Regions from separate parts of the Homo sapiens genome. Here region 2 is reported to be linked to region 1. The links are microRNA targets in miRTarBase. Many come from high-throughput screens and were not tested one by one. Region 1 holds a microRNA gene; the other region holds the end of a gene's coding sequence.

Region 1 (3,420 bases):
AGCCCTTACTATTTTGAGATACATTCCATCAATACCTAGTTTATTGAGAGTTTTTAGCATGAAGTGCTGTTGAATTTTGTCGAAGGCCTTTTCTGCATCTATTGAGATAATCAGACAGACCGCTAGCAAGACTAATGAAGAAGAAAAGAGAAGATTCAAATAGACACATAAAGGGAATATCACCACCGAGCTCAAAGAAATACAAACTACAATCAGAGAATACTATAAACACCTCTACGCAAATAAACTAGAAAATCTAGAAGAAAGGGATAAATTCTTGGACATATACACCCTCCCAAGACTAAACCAGGAAGAAGTTGAATCTCTGAATAGACAAATAACAGGTTCTGAAATTGAGGCAATAATTAATAGCCTACCAAACAAATAAAAGTCCAGGACCAGATGGATTCACAGCCGAATTCTACCAGAGGTACAAAGAGGAGCTGGTACCATTCCTTCTGAAACTATTCCAAACAATAGAAAAAGAGGGAATCCTCCCTAACTCATTTTATGAGGCCAGCATCATCCTGATACCAAAGCCTTGAGAATTTTAGGCCAATATCCCTGATGAACATCAATGCGAAAATCCTCAATAAAATACTGGCAAACTGAATCCAGCAGCATATCAAAAAGCTTACCCACCACAATCAACTCGGCTTCATCCCTGGGATGCAAGGCTGGTTCAACGTACGCAAATCAATACACGTAATCCATCACATAAACAGAACCAATGGCAAAAAAAAAACAAACACATGATTAAATTTATTTTTATTGTATTTTATTTCAATAGTTCCTGGGGAACAGGTGGTTTTTGGTTACATAGATAAGTTCTTTATTGATGATTTCTGAGATTTTGGTGCACTGGTCCCCTGAGCAATGTACACTGTATCCAATGTGTAGTCTTTTATCCCTCACATGGAGTAAAATATGATGGATAAAAGACTACATATTGGGTACAATTTGGGAACTTCCCCCTGAGTCCCCAAAGTCCATTCTATCATTTTTGTGCCTTCGCGTCTCCTCATAGCTCCCACTTATGAGCGAGAACATACGATATTCGTTTTCCATCCCTGAATTGCTTCACTTAGAATAATGATCTCCAACTCCAGGTTGCTGCAAATGCTATTATTTTGTTCCTTTCTATGTCTGAATAGTATTCCATGGTGTATATATACCACATTTTCTTTACGCACTCGTTCGTTGATAGATAGCCTAAATAGACTTGTTTCATATTTTTGCAATTGCGAATTGTACTGCTATAAACATGCATGTGCAAGTGCCTTTTTCAAATAATGACTTCTTTTCCCCTGGGTAGATACTCAGTAATGGGATTGCTGGATCAAATGGTAGTGTTACTTTTTGTTCCTTAAGGAATCTCCATACAGTTTTCCATAGTGGTTTTACATATAGTGTTTTTTAAAATTATTTTCCTCATATTTTATTATCACAGAAATGAAATGAAGTATCTCTTATGGATACCTTCTTACCACTTTACTCTGTTTATATACCTCTTCTTAGTCCTCTAATTCAGATTCATTGAGTTCTGACCTTGGTTTCTTGAGGTTTTGTTTTGTTTAACATCCTTTCTTGAGCTTCATGATGAAAAATTTACTCATTCTGTGTTCTAGATAGATAAATAGTAATATTGCCAATATTATGTACTCACCACCACGAAAAGTTTAATCCTATCCAACATTGTTTAGTAGAATAGGTGGTGGTATAGATAGAGACTGTGTAAAAGATAGCCTTCACATATGAAAAAAAAAGCTGTCTGACAGACTTTTGAGGTATCCACTTTGAATCAAGAAGATTCTCATGAATGTTTCATTTGCATTTTTATGATACTTTAGTCAGTGTCATTTAAATGACATTTTTATAGTGTAATACATTTATGATTTTTATATTACTCAAGTATAAGAAAAATTGTCAGTTTTTAATTTCAGTCTCTTTTTATCATTGGTTAATATGCAGGATTTAGGATTTTCAGTATGTTGTTGTTGTTGTATATAGGTGCCTGGAATACTTATTAAGAAACGATGCAAATCCAGGGATCCGTGATAAGCAAGGATACAACGCAGTTCATTATTCAGCTGCTTATGGTCACCGTCTATGTCTTCAGCTGGTAAGATTCCTGAATTCTTGTGAAAGACCTAATGGGAGTTTATAGTCTAATAATGTAACAAAAATGAGAATAAATGGATCAAGGAACAAATTCCATTTTGTTTTTTAACATTTTCAGAATTTATATACCTCTTAAATTCACACTTGCTTTAGTAAGATATATCTCATTCTCTTTTCCTTTTAAAAAAGGAGAAAATTAGATCTCTGAAGAGGGCTACTGATTACCCCATGTTCATGTCTACACTATTTACTTCTCCTGCCCCTTTAAATTAATATTCCTCATAAGTTTCTAAAAAACTATAACTGTGTCTTTTGTGAGAAATAAAAGTCCCTGTGAAAGGAATATCTCCCCCATATATTTAGGGAATTCCAAAAGGCACATTTATTTCACAACCCCTCCTAACAAGGGAGACTCCACTTCTGCAGAGGACGTTTTTATTTCTGCTGTGGTCTGATTCTGGAATAGAATACCACCATTCACCCAAATTTACCAAACCAGAAGGAAAGTCAAGGAAAAGATATTCATGTGTGTAACAGATACTTTAGGTTAAAGATGCTCTTATTTAGACTTACCTTATAAATTACATTAAACTTTGCTTCCCTTCAAGGGGAAATAAAATTCAACGAGCGTAGATATAAAACAAGAAAAGGGAGGTTGACAATTTAATATAGCACTTAGAGCCCTGCTACAAAAATAACTATTTTCCTACGTTATGGATATTCACACCAAAATTTTAGACCTATGTATATAGATTTGACGTCTGTTGTGATATAAAATTGTTTATTCAAAACACCTAATTTTTTGGAGCCAAAGGAAGCACGGGTTTAGGGTAAAAGTTAGCAAAGCTCTATATAAGTTGAGACTTAATATAGATGAATACTTCCCAAGCTAAATATTTTTGTTTTGACTTTTATTTCAGATTGCAAGTGAAACTCCTCTAGATGTTGTAAGTATTAGTCAATTCCCTCCCACCAATTAGTATTGGTCAGTTCCCTCCTACCAGTTATGTTTATCTGTTTGCTCTCATTAGAGCTGAAAGTGTTTTTACATATTAGGCACAAAGACGGTGACAGAAATCATGTGTACAGAGGAAAGGAAGATGTTTACTTGGTGGCAATTAAGTAGCATTTCCCCCAAACTCTTATGCCTGTCTTCAAAGCTCTTAGTCTGTGGTCCTTAGTATACTTTCATAATAATCATGTTTTATAAGTTTGCTGAGTTGCCAAATAATACTCTAAGGTGGATTTGAACTGGGTGGGTGGGAGAGAATAATTGCTGTAGTATGTCTTTCTGACATT
Region 2 (3,420 bases), not on the chromosome of region 1:
GTTCAAGCAAAGCTATGCTTAACAGATACATCTGTGGTTTCAAGAAGGATAAGCAAAAAGGGTAGCCATGGGAAGGAAGAAGAAAAAGAAAGCAGCCATAAAACACTTCCAAAAGGAGGTCATTTTCCCTGGTGTGAAATGCACAGATAATTTAATGTAATTTACTTTAAGATTTTCCCCTCTCAGGGTCTGATTTCAGAAAATCAAATTACAAAGTCATCATCACATCCTAGATTTATTACAACTGACCTGCAGGCAAAAGGATAGAACTATTACATAAACACTTCGATTCCATGTATATATCTTAAATAGAGGAGGAATTCAAACAAGAATACAGGATAAAATATTCCAAAGCTCCAAGAAGCAGTTATGTTACTGAGCTCCATTTTTTACAGACAAATAAGGCAATATCCCTGCACATTAGCTTTTTGATAATTTTTATACATTTTTCTATGGTACAAGAGAAAAATAACCAGAGCTCACAATGTACAGTTCTTACACTATTTTCACAGTTTGTGAACACTATACACCCTTTTGTTTTAATAAAGATACATTGTAATAAACTCCTTGCCCTTAAGTTTATAGTTTATAATAATCTATGATTAATACACTAAAATTGCCTTCTTATGTGGTCATCCACACAATAGAACGGTCAGATTAGCTCCTGGACAGTCAGAATTGCTTTTATCTCCATTTGCATAATGGCAAAGTGACCCTATGCTGAGCCAGATGGGAAGTTGACAGCAGAGAAACAGATTCCTCTTGAGTCCCCGGGAGCAATGGAGGATGATGGCTTGCTGTGGTCGAAGGCAGACATAGAGCAATGTCTCCTTTCAGAACAGTGGGAAGTCTAAAGTTTAGGATACCGTGGGGGAGAAGATAGGGAAATGAGGCAAGTAGATCAAAGAGATAATCACTTTTGAATTCTGCAATTTACAGGGATGTGACTTTAAACAGCACCATTCTCCCTTTATTGTTTGACAGTATTTATGACTGTCACTCTGAGAGGAGACACAGCAATACGTGCCACGATTTGGTTCTGTAATGGCATCACCTGCATCTCAGGCCATGACTGTTTTATATTCCAGTGTGCTTGAACCACTCACAGTGCTGCTTCACTGTCATACAAAGCCTAAGGTTCAGTGCCAGGGAGGCCCAAGCAAAACCTAATGAGAACCTGGCTAATGGGTAAGTGAAGAAGCACAAGATACTTAAATGGCCTCTTGTAACAGTGCTGAGGGTTTTGTTTTGCTTTTTGTATTTTTTTCCAGTAGAATTCCAATGCCAAGAAATGGTGATGGACTACGAGAGGTTCTAGCAGGTGATGAACGTAAAGGCTGCCGTTTCGGATCCTCATCTGGTCCAATGTGTCTCTAGAAAAGATGCCTCTTTATCACCTACCACATCGGCTGGGCCCCACTATTCTTAGCCTTTTAAACACTAGCGAATATGAGAGATTTGGGGCTAAAAATCCTTGGTAAGGAACATCCCTGCTAACTGTAAAGGTTTTTTGATATAGAAAAAAGGCAAAATATTGGATTAAGCGCAAGTCACATAGCGACAATAGACCACAGGGGAAGGGAAAGAGATTCGGAAACTGAAGACCTGGACCAGTGATGGCAAGAAGCAAACAACTGAGATTTGGTCTTTTGCTGCCTACTAGAAATCTTTATCTAATCAATCAAGGCACATTGCTACTAGCTACTTCTCCCTGTTAGTGAGTTATGATGGCTAAAGTATCAGGCTTGGGACCAAGGGGAAATATATAGCTGCTACAAGTTGTTCCAGATAAAATACTAGAATTAAAAACATCTGTAAACTTTGCCTTCTGTACTGTTTTCTTCTTTCAGTCCTGGTGGTTTGTGGCAGGTGGAACATCAAGTTGGCAGCACACCGAATTCTGAGAATGAAAAATTCTTAGGATCAGCACCTTCTTTGACAAGTGGCAGACTCCTGAGTCTTCCCATTGAAAAATAGGACTGGTAAAGGAGAAAAGAACACATTCTGTCCTGTCTCTATATTTTAATGTTCACCTCTTTGAACGCAACATGGTTTTTGGTAAAGATAAATTCATTCTAATTTAACATGATATTTCAAACAGGAAATTTGGCTGAGCACATCGATCCCCAAACATCAACTGTAACTGTAAAGCAACAGAATATCACATCAGTAATCTATTGCACTTGGTGAAGAAAGTAAATTCCTCCTTTGTCTCCCAGCTCCAGAAGGCAATGTGTCTCGTTGGCTGTGCAAGCTCTTCTCACTCAAGCCCGAGTTTCTATGTTCAGACATAGTACATTCATCACTGTGTCCTTCCAGGATTTGGAAGTCTGACAAAACACCATTCCAGTAGCTGCATCTCCAGGTTTTGAGTCTAGAAATGAATTTAAGATGTGATCTAATCACAGTCAACAACTTGATCGTACTGACTTCCACATTTCATGAATATGTTCATCACAAAAGAGCAGGATGAGGTCTCTCTGACCAGCACTAACACTGTGTGATCAATCAGGTATTACAAGGATGCACGTTCTAGGTGACAGGAGTATACAGACATGATGGAAACGAACACCAATCTTATTGCACATGGTGTCTGGGCGAGCAATAAAAACACTGTGATACGGGATGAAAATTCTTTACGTCTTGCTTCCTCTCAGCCCTTTTTTCTAGAGTCTGATGTAGCAGCGATATCAATCGACATACATGGGAGAGCTGGGAGTAGCTGGCATTTGATCCAGGATTTTACAAACATAGCATGCGACCTCAACGGCACGTTCTTCATACATCAAAATAAAGGGATGTTTCTGCAAGAAAATTGAAAACAAAAAAGTCAAAAGTTTGTATGACAGCCCAAACTGAACATTTTCCAATTTCTATAGAACATAGAACTCCAGGCTCCCAACCACACATAGCTATGAAATACCGCAACACTACAAGTTCAGAGAGGCGAGTACAGCCTTTATTCCATGCAGATATGCTAATGGGCATGGGCATGCCTAGAGAGAGGATACGTGGTAATGATCTGAAGGTGCCACCTTGGCAGTGAGGTCTGGAAACTCATCTGTATACCAGGGAGTGTTTGTTGAGGAAGACAGCCAAGTTGTCACTCAGCACAAAACATAGCTGGAGCCTCCACCACACCATCTAAGAGCTAAGAAGAATGACGCAAATGCCAGTCACTATTCCTCTTGGGACACCAATATAAATCTCAACCTCCATTTCTCCTATATACAACAGGAGGACCTTTTTACAAAAAGGTCGCAATCCTTTTGACCTCTTCTTTTGACCTTTTAACAAAAAGGCTGTAATTCTTTTGACCAAAAGAGGCCCAAGAGAAATTTGCCCCAGGAGCTTCTTCCCTGTACTCTCCAGAGCCAGGGTCCCAGTATCTGCTTCACTAACCCACCTTTTAAAACTCCA

What was found. The annotated mature microRNA hsa-miR-3134 reads UGAUGGAUAAAAGACUACAUAUU and lies in region 1 at 929-951, shown strand. An mRNA with a match to its seed (bases 2 to 7 or 8) in the 3' UTR can be bound and repressed. Matches are read on the target gene's strand: a 7mer-m8 pairs with bases 2 to 8, a 7mer-A1 pairs with bases 2 to 7 and ends in A, and an 8mer does both.
Region 2: miRTarBase lists MAP2K4 as a target of hsa-miR-3134. Seed matches in the 3' UTR shown: 7mer-A1 at 2,557-2,563 and 7mer-A1 at 1,296-1,302.

What each region holds. Positions count from the first base shown.
Region 1 is chr3:15,694,836-15,698,255 of GRCh38, reverse strand. It overlaps MIR3134 (microRNA 3134), which reads left to right and starts at 885; the gene lies at 885-958. It overlaps ANKRD28 (ankyrin repeat domain 28), which reads left to right. Exons shown (of 28, transcript NM_001349278.2): 15 at 2,011-2,122; 16 at 3,042-3,068. It also overlaps a transcript of BTD not described here.
Region 2 is chr17:12,140,531-12,143,950 of GRCh38, reverse strand. MAP2K4 (mitogen-activated protein kinase kinase 4) reads right to left here. Exons shown (of 11, transcript NM_003010.4): 11 at 123-2,804. The coding sequence ends at 2,691. Among named protein-coding and RNA genes, the nearest start is that of MIR744, 60 kb to the right of the region's middle.